4 linked regions of the Homo sapiens genome follow. The protein of the gene in region 1 purifies or fractionates together with the protein of each later gene. This does not show direct contact. Each region holds a gene or a part of one and is shown in the gene's direction. Other genes may lie near its edges. The genes, in order: NOL8, DDX47, URB1 and DDX51.

What was found.
Region 2: the proteins of NOL8 (region 1) and DDX47 purify together in Homo sapiens (affinity purification with mass spectrometry; one large-scale study listed by BioGRID and IntAct). This does not show direct contact.
Region 3: the proteins of NOL8 (region 1) and URB1 purify together in Homo sapiens (affinity purification with mass spectrometry; 2 studies listed by BioGRID and IntAct, with this or other methods). This does not show direct contact.
Region 4: the proteins of NOL8 (region 1) and DDX51 purify together in Homo sapiens (affinity purification with mass spectrometry; 2 studies listed by BioGRID and IntAct, with this or other methods). This does not show direct contact.

Annotation. Positions count from the first base shown.
Region 1 is NC_000009.12:92,304,131-92,308,849, reverse strand, and holds part of NOL8 (nucleolar protein 8), read left to right. Parts: intron 1-1,825; coding exon 1,826-1,964; intron 1,965-3,019; coding exon 3,020-3,097; coding exon of another isoform or gene 3,098-3,101; exon of another isoform or gene 3,102-3,102; intron 3,103-4,719. UniProt on the Homo sapiens protein: Plays an essential role in the survival of diffuse-type gastric cancer cells. Acts as a nucleolar anchoring protein for DDX47. May be involved in regulation of gene expression at the post-transcriptional level or in ribosome biogenesis in cancer cells.
Region 2 is NC_000012.12:12,819,117-12,823,835, forward strand, and holds part of DDX47 (probable ATP-dependent RNA helicase DDX47), read left to right. Parts: intron 1-2,091; coding exon 2,092-2,280; intron 2,281-2,538; coding exon 2,539-2,610; intron 2,611-2,848; coding exon 2,849-2,967; intron 2,968-3,544; coding exon 3,545-3,616; intron 3,617-4,086; coding exon 4,087-4,203; intron 4,204-4,719. UniProt on the Homo sapiens protein: Required for efficient ribosome biogenesis. May have a role in mRNA splicing. Involved in apoptosis.
Region 3 is NC_000021.9:32,385,943-32,390,661, reverse strand, and holds part of URB1 (nucleolar pre-ribosomal-associated protein 1), read left to right. Parts: intron 1-4,719.
Region 4 is NC_000012.12:132,135,404-132,139,235, reverse strand, and holds the end of DDX51 (ATP-dependent RNA helicase DDX51), read left to right. Parts: 3' UTR 1-2,642; downstream 2,643-3,832. UniProt on the Homo sapiens protein: ATP-binding RNA helicase involved in the biogenesis of 60S ribosomal subunits.

The DNA of each region.
Region 1 (4,719 bases):
TTGGGTGTGTGTTCCCTCAAAGCCGTAAACAACTTGTCCTCCAAGTGCAGTGGCATTGTCTCCAATGACATCCTCTTCAGCTAACCTAGAGCATATGTCACTGTTGATCATCCCTTCTTGAAATGTTCACTTTGCTTCCAATTGCATCATAACTTCCTGGTTTTCTTAACTCTTTATTCCTAATTTTTCTTTTGCCTCCAAATATGGGTTCTTCCCAGGGTTCTGTAAGTCCCTATAGCTTTAGCCTTCACTTGCACATGAGTATTTTTCAAATTTGGATCTTCTTTCTTCCTTGCTGTTCTGCTGAGCTCCCAACTGGTCTTAAACGCCTGTTGGATATTTTCCACAGGCTTTCCTGAGTTTGTGTTAAAACTCAGCAAGTCCAAACCAGCTCTTCTTAACCTTTCTGCGTTGATGGCGTGTCCATTCTTAGAATCTCTGTTGTTGTTTTTTTCTTTCCTTCTCAACATTTTATTTTTATTTTTTTGGAGACAGGATCTCACTGTGTTCCTCAGGCTGGAGTGCAGTGGCACAGTCATAGCTTACTGTAACCTCAAACTCAGTCTCTCTAGTAGCTAGGACTACAGGCATGTGCCACCATGTCCAGCTAATTTTTGTATTTTCATAGAGACAGGGTCTCGCTGTGTTGCCTAGGCGGGTCTCAAACTCCTGGCCTCAAGTGATCCTCCTGCCTCAGCTTCCCAAAGTGCTGAGATTATAGGCATGGAACCACTGCACCAGACCCCTTCCCAAATTTTGAGGCACAACGTTTTGTCTCAAGTAAGCAGCACAGCCAGCCTATATCACCTTGAGCCTTTTTCAGCATTATAATCTACTTCCCTAATGCTTATTAGATTAAAATTTAAATTGATGTTTTTGATAGTCAAAAGTTGTTGAAATTAGCAGTTTCAACCTAATGCAGTGTAAACTTTTTGTACTTTATTATTTCAATATATGTGTTCGTTTTGTTTCCAACACCTAGCATGCTTTCCTACCACCTCTAGGGATTCAACTCTATCTTTCCTACCTCATAACTTTACCTAGTTTATAAAGCATCTTTTGATTCAGTTAAACACTATCTCAACTTCCTTTGAACCCTTAGAAACTTTGGGGGCATCCCTGTAGAGTACTTAAATTAGCATTTTATTCTAGTTTCTGTTAGTTGGTTATTTATATCCTGCAGTAAGTTGAAAGAGTCATACAGGCTTAGACTACTTTTGTATTTCTGTAATCCAAACTAGCTGTTTAACTTTATTCTGTGATATTTTGTCTGTTTGTAGTAGTTGAGGATAGTAGCTTGTAAAAGTCCATGATGCCTTAGTATGTGTAGGGCATATGGTTTTTTTCCCATAATACTTGTTATTGAATCAAAGACTGAAACAACTATCCACTAATATCTTATATTGTCAGATATACCATTACCATTTTTCACTCTTTATCATTTTTAGATTTACGTAATTTAGATTATGTTTAGAATGTTAAAAAAATCAAAGAGTCTATAATCACTGTAGTTATTAGTATCTTGCTCTATTACATTTGTCGATCTTTACCTTAAAAGTTTTAGACTTGCTACTGAAAGCCATTAAATTCAGACTTTCATAATTAGGAACAGAAGTAGGACTTTTCATTGTCTGGTCACGCAGACTTTCTGAGTTTGCTATGACTGAGGGTCTTTGGTTATGGAGGTTAGTGAAATGAGGTTAAAGTTTCTTCTTCCTGTCTTAATGGATTTTGAACATGTTTAGGTACTTGGTAAATATTTGATGATTGAGACTTCTCAGGCTGTGTTTTCCAAGAGAGTATTAATTATCCCTTTTCCTCAAAGAGGTAAATGAAAAGAAAACTGCTGAGGAAGAAGAGCTTGCTGAAGAAAAAAAGAAAGCCCTGAATGTTGTACAAAGTGTTTTGCAAATCAACTTAAGCAATTCTACAAACAGAGGATCAGTAGCTGCTAAGAAATTTAAGTATGTTTTATGTTCCATCCCATTCTACCATATCATCCTTTGCCATAAATGTCTTCTTGAACTCAATTTAAAACTAGGTCTCTTTTAATGGCCTGGGGAGGCAGCTGGCAATATGTATCAGACCCTTAAAAATATACTTGCCTTTGACCCAGTGATTCACTTCAAGGAACTAATCTTAAATTATTTCTGTATTTATACACTTAGATGTCATAGCAGCATCGCTTTCATTAGTGAAACAAATGGGAAACAGTTTAAATAGTAACTGTAAAAGTATTTATATAAACGTAACTGTTATGGAAATTTTCAGGCATGAAATTTAGAGAGACTAATGAAAGCCCTGTATACCATCATTACCTGTACACCAGGTAATGAAAGCCCTGTACACCATCACCTAGCTTTTACAGTCACCAACATGTGACCAGTGTTCTCTTCTATACCTTTATCCAACCCCTACTTTACACAATGAAATGTTTTATGCAAATCCCAGATAGTATATCATTTTATCTGTATGTATTTTAGTATGTTTAAAATCATTTTAAAAGCTAAAAAAATCCAGGAAATCTCAAAAGTAGGTAGTTTAAAATATTTTTTCGGCTGGGCATGGTGGCTCACACCTGTGATCCTAGCACTTTGGGAGGCTAAGGTGGGCGGATCACCTGAGATCAGGAGTTGGAGAGCAGCCTGGCCAACATGGTGAAACCCCGTCTCTACTAAAAATATAAAAATTAGCCGGGCATGGTGGCACATGCCTGTAATCCCAGCTACTTGGGAGGCTGAGGCAGGAGAATCGCTTGAACTTGGGAGGCGGAGGTTGCAGTGAGCCAAGATCACGCCATTGCACTCCAGCCTGGGCAACACAGCGAGACTCTGTCTCCAAGAAAAATCTATGTATATGTTATTTCTAGTAAGATCCTAGTTATCTTATCTGATGTTATATGGCTTCTTCTTGCTGCAAAATTAGAATCTTCCTAGTGCTGAATTATAATTTGCTACTTACTTTTTGTATTAGTGTTCTGTTTTTATCTCTTCCAACCTCCCTTCCTTTTTTTACATAGGGACATCATACATTATGATCCAACGAAGCAAGACCATGCCACTTACGAAAGAAAAAGAGATGATAAGCCAAAAGAAAGGTAAGTAGAGCTACTTCTTTTAGCAATAGGATCATGTAAATTAATCTCATTTCAGACAATTAAAAATGTAGGTAGGAACCAATATCCTACTCATTGGTCCCACTGTATTAAGATTGGTGGGGTAGGGGTAGTGCAGGTAGAGTTAGAAAGGAATTATTGATGTGGTGGAGGAGGTCTTACCTTTTAACAGAGGAATCTATAAATGATATGTACTCCTATCATTTATACCTTTTATTTGTATAAATGATGCCTTTTATTTGTACTAGTTTCTTGTGTCTTCTGTAGCTACCACAAACTTAGTTACTTAAAATCACAAAAATTATTTCTTTACAGTTCTGGAACCTAGAAGTCCCAAATTAAGATAGTGAACAGGTTATGTTCCTTCTAGAGGTTCAGGGAAACAAAGCTGTTTTATGCCTCTCCTAGTTTCTAGTGACTGCCACCAATCCTTTGGTGTTCCTTGGCTTGAGACTACATTACTCCCATTTCTGCCTCTATCTTCACATGGCCTCTTCTTTTCTGTCTCTCCTCTTTGTGCCTCTTATAAGGACACTTGTGATAGCATTCAGGGCCCACTTGGATAATCCTGGATGGGCTCCTCATCCTAGGACCCTTAACTTAATATCTCTGCAAGACCCCTTATCTAAATAATGTTAACATTCACAGGTTTCAGGAATTAGGACATGGACATAGCTTTTGGGGGGCAACCATTCAACCATCTAGTGTGGTAGGAGCTTCTGTTTCCTATAGATGTGCAGTCAGTTGGATAAACATGGCAAATATATGGAGCAACCAGTAGCAGCTTGGTTTAAATCCTTCATTTTCCAACTGCTAATAGCCACGAAAATCACAAAAGGCAGTGTGGTATCCTGAATTGAATCTTGAAACAACAGGACAATTTGTGGAGAAACTAGTGAAATCAAAACAATGTCTGAGTTTAGTTAGTGGTAATCTACCAATGTTAATCTTCTAATTTTGACAATTATATCCTAGTTACATACACACATAATTACATTAGGGAAAACAAAGTGAAGGCTATTTAGGAACTCTACTATTTTCGTTACTTTCTGTAAACCTAAAATTGTTCCAAAATTATTCTTTTAAAAAGAATCACATTTTAGACTAAAGTAGAATATTAATATTCCCTCCAATGTAGGATATATGTGTGTTATTTCAGATAATCCGTATTGAACAAATAGGATATGTTTACCCCCTCCCTATACCCCTAAGAAGTCTCATCCCTTTACATCAGCTCAAAATCCAGGATGTCATCATTCAGATCAGATCTAAGTACAGATGAGGCTTCTCTGTTATTCCTTGAGTACAGTACCTTGAGTGCAGTTCTGTTTGATAAGACCTATGAACTAAAAAAGCAAGTTATCTACCCTTCCTCCAATATAGAGCGGTGGAACAGGCATTGGATAACCACTATAGGTACTGTTCAATGAAAGAAAACAGGCACAAAGGAGTCACATGTCCATAGTAACTCTGAAATCTAGACAGACAAATGTTGGAAGGTCTTTGATTAGGACTGAGGGCCTAGGAATAATTCTTCCTGACCGTTGACTTGGCTTTCTGGATCATCCTTCTCTTTTCATAAGTGCTGGCACAGGTTTACAGCT
Region 2 (4,719 bases), on another chromosome or scaffold:
TCTTTCTTGAAGCTGCCTTCCTCCTTAATTTCAAGACAGCATTTTCTTCTGTCTTTCTAGCTGTTCTTTCTCAGTCTCTTCTTCTGGTTCTTTTCCCTTTGCCTTACAATATTGATTCTGTCTTTACCCTTTTTTCTTACTCTGAAATACTACATAACATTTCTCATTCAGTCCTCAAGCTTAAACCCTGTCTGCATCAGTGAGTCTGTATTCTTCAGAATCATCTATGGAGCTTTTTTTTTTTTTTTAAATAGAGATTTCTAGGTCCCAGCCAAGACCTACTGAATCAGAATTTCCAGGCATGGGACCGGGCATATATATATATGTAAGTCTCATCGATTATTCTGAAGCATCTGCCCCTGAGGAAGTACCAGTGGTAGGATACTCATGGCTCCCATGTCTGTTCTAACCCCCACTTTTTTCCTGAGCTCCAAACAAGTATGTCCAGCTGGTTTTTAGACATACCTCCAAATAATTATGCCCAACTGGTTTTTAGACATATCTCTAAACAAGTATGTCCAACTGGTTTTTAGACATATCTCTTTGAGTTTACTATAGGAATCTTAAGTTCCAAGTTCCCTGTGTGGAAACCAAAGTCCTTATTTTCCTCACCAGGACTAATTTTTCTGTTGCCTATATTGCAGTTTTTGGCTTTTGAGTGTCCCGTACTAAAAATGTGTGAGTCACCCACATTTCCTTTTGTTAGTTTCTGAATCTCATTCCTGTGCTCATTCCTGGCCTCAGTTCAGGCCACCATCATATCTCCCCTGAATTACATCCAATGTCCCAGTTAAGCCTTTGTTTTCCCTGTTCTGGTCATTTAAGTCATTTCTGATTGTAAGTCATGTTCAGGTTATGTCAGGGAAAAGAGATTTGTTTATTGTAGGATTATCTTCTAGGTAAAGAAAACTTCTCAGCAGTTACACAGTCAGAACAGGGGCAGCAACTGTAGGGGTCATGATTTAATAGGGAGCATTCTCACTGGCCACTGTGGTAGTGCATAGCTACCTCATGGGCTACAGCCAGCTCGGAGATAGTGATCTCAACTCAGGAGTTAATTTCCAAGTCTTATGAGTTGTGGCTTGAGTGGTGATAGCAAACAGTGGTGACCTGTTCTTAAAGAATTACTTAGAGCATTCTTCCCTCAGAAGGAGCAGTAACTGGCATGCACTGTTAAGTTCCTTGGCTCCTCCTTATGCCATCAGGTCTAGAGTTTATCTTCCTAAACAGTAATATTGATCATGATATTCCCTGTTTAAAATCCTTTAATTCTTTCTTATAGGAAAACATCAAAACTCTAGCCTCATTCTTCCCTCTTTCTCCCTTAACACTTCTGTGTTCCAGCCACATTGTACTTCTCAGCCTAACTATGCATGCTATGTTCTTTTTATTTTTTGAGATGGAGTTTCGCTCTTGTTGCCCAGGCTGGAGTGCAGTGGCACGATCTCCGCTCACCGCTGCCGCAACCTCCGCCTCCCGGGTTCAAGCAATACTCCTGCCTCAGCCTTCCGAGTAGCTGGGATTACAGGCATGCACCACCATGCCCGCCTAATTTTGTATTTTTAGTAGAGACAGGGTTTTTCCTTGTTGGTCAGACTGGTCTCGAACTCCCAACCTCAGGTGATCTGCCTGGCTCGGCCTCCCAAACTGCTGGGGTTACAGGCGTGAGCTACCATGCCCAGCCAGCATGCTATGTTCTCTAAAGCCTTAATTCTCTTTCCTCTTACAGGAATATCCTTTCTTCCCTTCTTTGCTTACTTCCAGTTTTAACTCACTTATCACCTCTGTTAGCCTTTTCTGACTCTTCTGGGCAGTAGTTACTTTTCCTTGTGTTCTCGCTGTATTTTGCAGGGGCTTATATTAAAACTCTTATCACATTATAATGCATTTGTATATTTGTCTGTCTCACCACTGGGTTTTGAGCTTATCTAAGAGAGAGGCCATGTCTTTTCTGTTTATTCAACTTTCCTCTCTCCCCAGTTCATCAGATATTTATTAAGCGTCTACTTTGTGCCCAGCATTGTGTCATTGTAGAAAACACAGAAATAGCGCAAAGAGATTACTTGGCTGTTGAATTTCTTTTTCTTTTAGGTCGTGATATCATTGGGCTTGCAGAAACTGGCTCTGGAAAGACAGGCGCCTTTGCTTTGCCCATTCTAAACGCACTGCTGGAGACCCCGCAGCGTTTGTTTGCCCTAGTTCTTACCCCGACTCGGGAGCTGGCCTTTCAGATCTCAGAGCAGTTTGAAGCCCTGGGGTCCTCTATTGGAGTGCAGAGTGGTAAGTGTCTGAGAGGGAAGGGATCCTAGGTTGCCATCACAAGTGAAGAATGAGTGTGGAGGAAGGAGAATGGAGGAAAGTATTGCTAGCATAATTTATTGACCTAAAGAGCTAATGTTGTATTTGAGCTTTGGGAAGAGTATTAATTGTAAGGGAAGAACAAATCTAAGTAGAAATCTGGCATTGGCTTTAAAAGATGTTCAGTGGACTGTGGAAAAAATTAAGGATCTCGTCTCTATGTTCTTTTTTTCTCTGTAGCTGTGATTGTAGGTGGAATTGATTCAATGTCTCAATCTTTGGCCCTTGCAAAAAAACCACATATAATAATAGGTGAGTAACTGACAAAGGTAAAAGACACTGGCAGTGATGAATTGGAGAAAATCTACCAGTGTTGGATAGAAAGACTTTGAGAAACAGATTTTGTAACCCTGTTAAATTTTTTAATTTCTTAAGTTAAATTTGGTGGAGAGCTGTGGGGTGGGGCAGATAACTTTATTTGTTTATTTGTTTTGTTTTTTTTTTGTCCTGTTCTGAAATGTCACTGTTTCTCCTCAACCTTTCTTGGTAGCAACTCCTGGTCGACTGATTGACCACTTGGAAAATACGAAAGGTTTCAACTTGAGAGCTCTCAAATACTTGGTCATGGATGAAGCCGACCGAATACTGAATATGGATTTTGAGACAGAGGTGAGCTCTCAATTTCTTTCCTCCTCTTAGAGCATCTCAAGGTTCCTGTTTCAAAATTTGGTTCATTGCCCACTTGTTTCATGTAGAACATTGCATTAGTATCAGTTTCATTCTTGATATTCTTCAAATTGCAGTTTCTCAGCACCCTTTTATCTTTAGAATATAGTCTGACTCTGACTTCAGAAATGGGAAATATCAAAACCGGATTTTCTTTTCCCTTTCGTTTAATTTAGACCTTGACATACACCCTGAAATATCTTTATTTTCTTTGATGACCCACTAATCCCAGCTTACTTAGTTGATTAATACTTTTTCTTGACTTTTCTCTTAAATCAGCTCTGGTCTACTAATTTAAACTGTTCTTTTCTCAGAAAGGTATTTTTTTTAATAGTATTTGGTAGGGTATCAGATAGTAAATATTCAGTAAACTTTAGCTGAATCAAATTGAATTTTCGAGTCCCAAATCTTCACAGTGATATATTTAGTTTGTTAGTGTCTACCTCCTTCACTACCTAGAGGATTTGCAGCTCTTCCAGTCTGAATATCATATTGGCATCTTTTCCTCTTTGTGCTTTAGGTTGACAAGATCCTCAAAGTGATTCCTCGAGATCGGAAAACATTCCTCTTCTCTGCCACCATGACCAAGAAGGTGAAATTTGCTAGGACTTTTGTTTCTTCTTTATGAGAATTGATACATAAAGTAAATAGTAATAACAATAAGGAAAAATAAATTGCTTTAGTCCGTTTTCACACTGCTATAAAGAACTATCTGAGACTAGGTAATTTATACAGAAAAGAGGTTTAATTGACTCACAGTTCCACATGGCTGGGAAGACCTCAGGAAACTTACAATTATGGCAGAAGGTGAAGGGGAAGCAAGGCAGGAGGTGGGGGCAGTGCCACACTTTAAAACCATGAGAAATTGTGAGAACTCACTATCATGAGAACCGCAATGGGGAAAACCACCTCTGTGATCCAATAACCTCCCACCAGGTCCCTCCCGTGACATGTGGGGATTACAATTCAACATGAGATTTGGGTGAGGACACAGAGCCAAACCATGTCATAAATAAAGAGTGTTTAGGCATCAGTGTGCTATTCTGGATCTTCTTCCTTCAGGTTCAAAAACTTCAGCGAGCAGCTCTGAAGAATCCTGTGAAATGTGCCGTTTCCTCTAAATACCAGACAGTTGAAAAATTACAGCAATATTATATTTTTATTCCCTCTAAATTCAAGGTAAAATGTTTACTTTGATCATTCCTGCCTCTCCCTCTTCTTTTCACCAAAGCATCTGAAAATGTGTCAACTCTTGATTAGGTAAGAGCTGTAATGCAGATTGGCATCCTGTCTGTTTGCTTTAGAGTGCATATCGTGCTTATATTATCACCGATAAGCCAGACATGCCAGGAATTCACAACACATTAAATCACAATACTGAGGTCATGATGTAATCATATAATTCCTTCCCATCCCCATCCTTGAGGTAATTTTTCCTTTGTCTGCTTATTATGTGGCTTTTATTTAGGATGAAGCCCCTGGTTTTGTGCTTTGATATAAGGACTTCTCCTGTTTGCTGAGTACAGATCTCCTGCCTGCCTTAAGGCTAAGTGGGGAATATGTGGTTCACAGAGATGATAATGCTGGTTAAGGAATGCAAAGCTGGCAGCTGGAGGTCTGGATAATTGAAAAGCGACTATAGGCTTAGTCTTTACCTTATGTATATGCCAGGTCTCCAATCCTGTCTCCCAGGTT
Region 3 (4,719 bases), on another chromosome or scaffold:
TGTGGTTTTGATTTGCATTTCTCTGATGGATCTAATTAAACTAAAGAGCTTGTGCACAGCAAAAGAAACTACCATCAGAGTGAACAGGCGACCTACAGAATGGGAGAAAATTTTTGCAATCTACTCATCTGACAAAGGGCTAATATCCAGAATCTACAATGAACTCAAACAAATTTACAAGAAAAAAAAAAACCCCATCAAAAAGTGGGCAAAGGATATGAACAGACACTTCTCAAAAGAAGACATTTATGCAGCCAAAAGACACATGAAAAAATGCTCATCATCACTGGCCATCAGAGGAAGTGGCTTTTCAAAAGGATTGTAGGATGGGACAGGGACAGGAACCTTACTGGCAGAAGAAAGAGCACGTTTAATTGTTAAAAAGATGTAGTATCTATATTTCATGGTCTTGCACAGAGAGCCTCATGACATTCAGGTGCTACATCATTTGAACACATGTCAGAAGGAGACCCAGGTTGACAGGGCATGGGTGTAGGTGAGTAGTTGAAAGATGGGGCAAAGCTGAGTCAATGGGTGAAAGTGTGGATCCCTTGTTTGAGGCTGTGTTGAACTTGTGTTTGAATCTGGTCTGTATCTTGGATTCTCTCCTCCTCTCTTCCTCTTTATACGCTCTCATAACCTATGATAGGATTGCTGGAAGATCAGGGAAGTGAAGTTGATGGCTGTTAGGAGACTTTGTTTTCACCAGGCATGTGAGGGAAGGGTTCTGATGATGCTCCCTTCGTGTAGTGGAGGAACAAGAGCTGCCAGGTTAGATTGGTAAGGACTGAGGATATTCCAGAGTGGATCAGTGTCAGCCTGTGGGAAGATCCCCCATCAAGAAGGGTTTGGCTCTAAGCCAGTTCCTTTGAAAGTGTTTGCCCACGACTCCACTGGTGATAGAGAAAAGGCCATACTGTAAGAGAGTACACTAATGGTTAAACTCTTGATCTCCTTCTCCCCACATTGCTTCTGGTTTCCCCACTGCATAAGTGGTAATTCTGATTAGCTGGATGTTCCTGCCAGAACCCTCCGTCTGCATCAGTCTGTCCCCTGGCCTTGGTGGTTGATTCTCCTCCTGAGAATTTCTGGAATCTGTCTGCTCCCCCTCTTTCCTTCATCATCATTCTAGTCCAGGCATCATCAGTCCCTGCTGGGACCGTGGCTGGAGTTGCCCAGAGTTGGTCTCTCTTGCTGTTGCTTCCCTGCAGCCCGTGCTGTGTGCAGCAGTCAAATGATCCTTCAGAGCTCCAAATCTGATTATGTCACTCCTCTCATGACACCCTTCAGTGGTATCCCACTGCCCTTAGGATAAAATCCAAAGTCATTTCCATTGCTTCATCTAGCCCTGCCTGCTTCTTTGACTTCATCTCAGGCTGCCCTCCCCCACTCACTCAGTCACCCCTCCCCACTCACCTGGCTCCAGTGTACCCTCCAGCCTTGGGGCCTGGAATGTGGTCTCACCCTCTGCCCCCTCAATACTTACGTTTACTATTATTAATAATAGGTTCAGCATTACTTCTTCAAAGGAAACCTTCCCAACCCTCTAATCTAGATCATGTTCCCTAGGTACAGTCCTCATTATACTCTTGATGTTTGCTTCATAGCACTTACTACAGGTGCTATACGTGTCTATGTAAGTGATTGCGGTAGGTGCTTAATAAATACTCACATTGGTCTCTATCATTAGATTGTAAGGACCATGTGGGTAGAGGCCATTTCTAATTTGCTCATCAGCACGTCTCGGGCACCCCCTGTAGGTGCACCTGGTAGGTGCCCAGTAAATGGTGTATGGAAAGATGAACCTGTAAAGACGGCAAACATAACAGGCCAGCAGTTTCCACCCTGTAATACTCTGGAATGCTCAGAGTTACATGCTAGAGTTTGACGAATAATTCCTTAAAAAAGAGTGAGTAGTTGCACTGCTCTTTCTGTATTAACAGCCCTTGCTATCACTTGCATTCTGTGTTTTCTTGAGGGACAGAGTAGGTATGCATAACTCCAGGGTGCCTGTGCCGACTGAGCTCCTGTAACTCACAGTCACCTTGGTCAGAACACCCATGGCCTGCTCATAATCACCACCAGACCACGCTGCAGACGGCAGCAATGGAGTCTGGCCCCGAAGCTCAGAGCAGCGCCTGGCATAGCAGATGCACTTGCTCAGTGACTGTTAAAGGAATGGCGGTGGTTGCTGCGGAAAATGTTGCAGCATAAAAGGGGATCTGAAAACACCTGTGAGGCTGGCAGAGGCCGAATGTGACTGGATTTTCACTGCTGCTGCTGAGGACACCCGGGGGGCTGCTTATGTTTTGAGGGTTTACCTTGACCTAAGTGTGATGCTGGATGCTTTATGTGTAAATTAGCCTTTTTACGCTTCATACAAACCCTGTCAGGTAGGTTCTGTTCTTGTTCCGTTATACAGGTGAGGTACCCAGAGCTCAGAGTTCAGTGCCTTACTGAGTACCATGCAGCTAGTAAGTGACTGAGCGGGGATTTGTGCCCAGGAGTCTGGCTCCAATTTTGTTCTTTTCTGGTATGTTTTTGGTGTAATGGCGTGCTCATGCGTCCCCGGCAGATGTGGCTTAGCAGCGTCAGGACTTGAATCTGAGACACGCAGAATTGCTGTCCAAGAGGAAGCATGTGTTGGTCCTCTCTGCTCAGCTAGTGGAGCTCACCTGCAGTACCAAGCCCTGTTCTGGGCCTCATGCTTCAAGGGAACATAGAGAGTGACCTGAACACAGAAGGATCTCGAAACTCTCATTTCTGGAGAGAGGTTAAAGGAAGTGTTTGGTGTTCAGAGGTGCTGACTAGGGTGATGGCAGCTGGTGTGGGAAAGAAGGATTAGATCCATTGCCTGTGGCCCCAAGGCAGAGAAGGAAGGACCCCTTAGGGATGCCCAGACACTCCCTAAAGCAGACCACGCTATTCTGATGTGTCTATGAAGACTGTAGTGTATTTCTTAAAGTTTGTGGCATTTTACATTTTACTGTATTGGTCATTACTAAGTGGGTTTTAATAGAAATATTTAGTCCCTTCCTCTGCTTTTTTTTTTTTTTTTTTTGAATAAGGTGAAGTCTTCACTCCCCAGAAGAGATGAAGGCCTCAGTAAGATGTGTTACCTTTAGCTTACGCTCTCATGCGGCTTCCAACCCACTGCCATGCCCTGCCTTCCTAGTTTTGAGAAGTATGGCCCAAAGAGTGGAACCAGAGAGAGGCAGGGTTTTTTTTGTTTTGTTTTGTTTTTGAGACGGAGTCTCACTCTGTTGCCAGGCTAGAGTGCAGTGGCACGATCTCGACTCACTGCAACTTCCACCTCCCGGATTCAAGTGATTCTCCGAGAGGCAGGTTCAAGTGATTCTCTGAAAGGCAGTTTTATAGAACAGGTTCTGGCAGGAGAATTCTGTGGGCAGCGGCACACAGGTGGCTCCCAGTTGGTAGGGTGGGGTTGTGGTGGGGGTTCAGATTCAGGTGTCAGTGGTAGGGGAGGGGAGGTTGTATTAATTGCAGGAAGGGTAGTAGAATCCTCAGGCTGTTGAGAGGGGAGATTTTTGAGTGGGGAACTTCTGGGGTGGCCTTATGGGGAAACACTCTAGTGGGGTGCCCTCCTTTGGGTTTTGAAAGAGCACTGATGTCAACTGATGCTTGGCATACTGACTGTGGGCCAGGTGCAGCACGGACACTCTGTGTGCCAGTGCACTCAGAGCAACAGGCATCAGCTCCATTGCATGAGCAGGAATCATCCAGTTCGTGGAGGGAGAATATGGGCTCTGGAGCCCGACTGCCTGGATTGGAGTCCTGGCTCTACCTCTCCTAAGCTGTGTACCTTTGGACAAGGGCCTCAGTTTTCTCATCTGTGAAATACTAGTACCTAGGGAAAAAAATACTCATACCTAGGGTGGAGGGTTGCAGTGAGAATTAGCTGATGTCATGTAAGTAAAGCTCTTGGTAATGTTTCGTTACCATGCTCTATATGGTTTTTCTTGTTATACCCATTCTACAGTTGAGGGAACAAAAGCTCTATGGGGATCCAGACGAGTCATTGCCAGACTCAGTAGTCAAACCTGGGAGTCACATTGGCACTCAGTTTGTCTCATTCCTTATTGCCTTCATGGTTTCTAAGTGTGTTCATAATGTCCTTGTGGATTAATCTACTAGGGCAGCCATAACAAAATACCATAGACTGGGTGGCTTAAACAAGAGGAATTTATTTCCTCACAGTTCTGAAGGCCACGTCCGCGATCAAGGCATTGGCATAGTCACATCCTGGTAAGGGCACGTCCTGGCTTGCAGACAACTGCCCTCTTGCTGTGTCCTCACATGGCCTTTCCTCTATCCACATGCAGAGAGGGAGCTCTCTGATGTCTCCTTCTCCTCTAAGGACACCAGTCCTGTTAGATCAGGACCTCACCCTCATGAACTCACTTAACCTGAGTTATCTCCTAAAAGACTATATCTCCAAATACTGTCTTTTTAGGGCTTAGGGTTTCTTTCTTTCTTTTTTTTTTTTTTTCCTGAGACAGAGTCTTGCTCTGTCACCTAGGCTGGGGTGCAATGGCGCGATCTCGGCTCACTGTAACCTCTGCCTCCTGAGTTCACACAATTCTGCCTCAGCCTCCCAAGTAGCTGGGACTACAGATATGTGCCACCACACCTGGCTAATTTTTGTATTTTTAGTAGAGAGGGGGTTTCACCATGTTGGCCAGGCTGGTCTTGAACTCC
Region 4 (3,832 bases), on another chromosome or scaffold:
CCACCCTGACCCTCCTTCCAGAGCAGTGCTGATCACTGGATCCTGTATGTGAGGAAAGGAATCCCCCAGTGGACACAGCCTTCCTCCCCAAGCACGTGGTCTCTGCGCCAGGCAGCCCGGGCGTCAGAGCTCAAGCACCTGCCCCGACTGGAGACTTCAGGGCTTGTCACTTTCAGAGTGTGGAGGTCAGGATGGCTGCGGGCAATGAAGCCTTAGTAAAACGGTGAAAAGTACTCCCAGACGGACGCGGGCACCCGTCATGCTTTTGCTGAGAGTTGGGGGCATTAACCTTGAGCTAATGTTAAAAATCAAGCTCTTGGCCAGGCATGGTGGCTCATGCCTGTAATTCCAGCACTTTGGGAGGCCAAGGCGGGTGGATCACCTGAGGTCACGAGTTCGAGACCAGCCTGACCAACATGGAGAAACCCTGTCTCTACTAAAAATACAAAATTAGCCAGGCGTGGTGGTGCATGCCTGTAATCCAGCTACTTGGGAGGCTGAGGCAGGAAAATGGCTTGAACCCGGGAGGTGGAGGTTGCAGTGAGCTGAGATTGCGCCACTGCACTCCAGCCTGGGCAACAAGAGCAAAACTCCGTCTCAAAAAAAAAAATTGCCGGGCGCGGTGGCAAATGCCTGTAATCCCAGCACTTTGGGAGGCCGAGGCAGGTGGATCACAAGGTCAGGAGATAGAGACCATCATTGCTAACATGGTGAAACCCCGTCTCTACTAAAAATACAAAAAAAAAAAAAAAACAACTAGCCGGGCGTGGTGGCGGGCACCTATAGTCCCAGCTACTCGGGAGGCTGAGGCAGGAGAATGGCGTGAACCCGGGAGGCGGAGCTTGCAGTGAGCGGAGACTGCGCCACTGCACTCCAGCCTGGGCAACAGAGTGAGACTCCGTCAAAAAAAAAGCTCTCCTCCCCAGATTTGTGAACCTTGTGACTGTTCAGTGGACACCTCACATATTGCTGGTGGGAAGGTCACGTGGAGACAGCTGGGCAAAGCCTTGGGGCGTTAAACACAGAGTCACTCATGACCCAGCACTTCCTCTCCTATGCACCTTGTACACCCCAGATCAATGAAACCTACATCCACACAGAAACGTACACAAATCTCTCAGCAGCACTGTTCACAGTAGCCAAAAACTAGAAACCACATGTCCGTCAGCTGATGAATGGAGAATAAAACGTGGGAAATCCACACCAGGAGAGAAAAAGGAGTGAGGCACCAGCATAGGCACCCCGTGGATGAACCCGGAACCTGACGCTAACTGAAGGAAGGCTCCGGCTATAGGGAGTGTCCCAGGCACAGCCAGAGATTGAAGGGTGCCGGGGCCGGGAGTTGGTGGGGGTTGGGGCTGGGGACACAGTGGCCAGTGTGTGGGTTTGTTTTGGGGATGATGAAAATGTTCTTAGGTTGTGTGTGGTGATGGCTGCTCACCTCTATAAACCTTTTACTAAAAACCATGGACTGGGTGGATACAGTGTGTGAATTCTCTCAGTCCAGTGCTTTGTTTGAAAAAGGTGGATGATGCCAACATCACTAACCGCCAGGGAGACGCAGGCCACGGCCACACCCGGCTCACTGGAGTTGTGAGGATGGAAACACCAGCCCACCCCACTCAGTTCAGACCTCAGCTTAGATGCAAAGAATGTCTGGGATGGGGACTGGCAGCTGATTAGAGATGCAACCACTGAACCTGTGGACTGTGTTCAAACAAATGCCAGCAGAACACAAAAGGCGACTGTTACAGGAGGCAGAAAGAAATGATTTAGGTAGACGGGGTAAAGCCAGTCCCCAGCAGAAAATTTGCCTTTTAACAAAAAGCAGCTCAAAAATAGCTCCCTTTCTAACCTCGGGGTTCAAAATCACTTCTCACGACAAGCAGCCAGAAAGAGCAGACTGTGAATCACAGATGAGACAGCTCGGGCACAGGAGTGCGGGGGGTGTCTCCTGGGTGATCACCAAACTTCACACTTCCACAATGGGCCCCAGTAAAACAGTGGACCCTAATAAGCACATTCCCGTCCCCTTAGGTGCACTAAGGGAAGCTAAAAGCAGACTGAGGGGTGCCTGTAACCCCAAGAAGATGTCTGGGAGCAGACCCAGAGACCCTCGCAGAAAAGTGTCACAGAGCAGCACAGACTGAGTCTGACAGAAACTCTCTATACAAATAGCACACCTTGTCCCAGCTAAAACCCTGGGCCCTGGGAGGACAAGACATCCCTCCTCTAACCCCTCGTCACTAGCCCATTTGTAAAAACCTTGACAGGCCGGGCACGGTGGCTCACACCTGTAATCCCAGCACTTTGGGAGGCTGAGGCAGGCGCATCACCTGAGGTCAGGAGATCGAGACCATCCTGGCCAACATGGTGAAACCCCATCTCTACTAAAAATACAAAACTTAGCTGAGCGTGGTGGCGTGTGCCTGGAGTCCCAACTACTCAAGAGGCTGAGGCAGGAGAATCACTTGCCCGGGAGGTGGAGGTTGCAGTGGGCCAAGATCAGCCCACTGCACTGCAGCCTGGCGACAGAAAAAAAAGAAACCTTGACATCTTTACTACAACTTAGCAACCCGCTCAGGCCCCCTCTGCAACGGAGAGCTCTTCTTCCTTTTTGCTTATTAAACTTCTGCTCCAAACTCACTGTGTGTGTGTGTGTCTGTCTGCGACCTCGATCTCCTTGGCCATGAGACCAAGAACCTTGGTATTTACCCCAGACCACAAGGCTGCTTCACGATGATTGCCATTTATCGGGGATTGATAGTGGCTCAGTGCTGCTGGGTTCGCAGACATAAGATGTGGGCCTGGCCACACACTCGGGAGGTGGGAGGAGCGGGCACCGTGGGCACACTCGGGGAGGTGGGAGGAGCGGGCACCGTGGGCACACTCGGGAGGTGGGAGGAGCGGGCACCGTGGGCACACTCGGGAGGTGGGAGGTAGCGGGCACCGTGGGCACACTCGGGGAGGTGGGAGGAGCGGGCACCGTGGGCACACTCGGGAGGTGGGAGGAGCGGGCACCGGGGCACACTCGGGAGGTGGGAGGAGCGGGCACCGTGGGCACACTCGGGGAGGTGGGAGGAGCGGGCACCGTGGGCACACTCGGGGAGGTGGGAGGAGCGGGCACCGTGGGCACACTCGGGGAGGTGGGAGGAGCGGGCACCGTGGGCACACTCGGGGAGGTGGGAGGAGCGGGCACCGGGGCACACTCGGGAGGTGGGAGGAGCGGGCACCGTGGGCACACTCGGGGAGGTGGGAGGAGCGGGCACCGTGGGCACACTCGGGAGGTGGGAGGAGCGGGCACCGGGGCACACTCGGGAGGTGGGAGGAGCGGGCACCGGGGCACACTCGGGAGGTGGGAGGAGCGGGCACCGTGGGCACACTCGGGAGGTGGGAGGAGCGGGCACCGGGGCACACTCGGGAGGTGGGAGGAGCGGGCACCGGGGCACACTCGGGAGGTGGGAGGAGCGGGCACCGGGGCACACTCGGGAGGTGGGAGGAGCGGGCACCGTGGGCACACTCGGGGAGGTGGGAGGAGCGGGCACCGTGGGCACACTCGGGGAGGTGGGAGGAGCGGGCACCGTGGGCACACTCGGGGAGGTGGGAGGAGCGGGCACCGTGGGCACACTCGGGAGGTGGGAGGAGTGGGCACCGTGGGCACACTCGGGAGGTGGGAGGAGCGGGCACCGGGGCACACTCGGGAGGTGGGAGGAGCGGGCACCGTGGGCACACTCGGGGAGGTGGGAGGAGTGGGCACCGTGGGCACACTCGGGAGGTGGGAGGTAGCGGGCACCGTGGGCACACTCGGGAGGTGGGAGGTAGCGGGCACCGT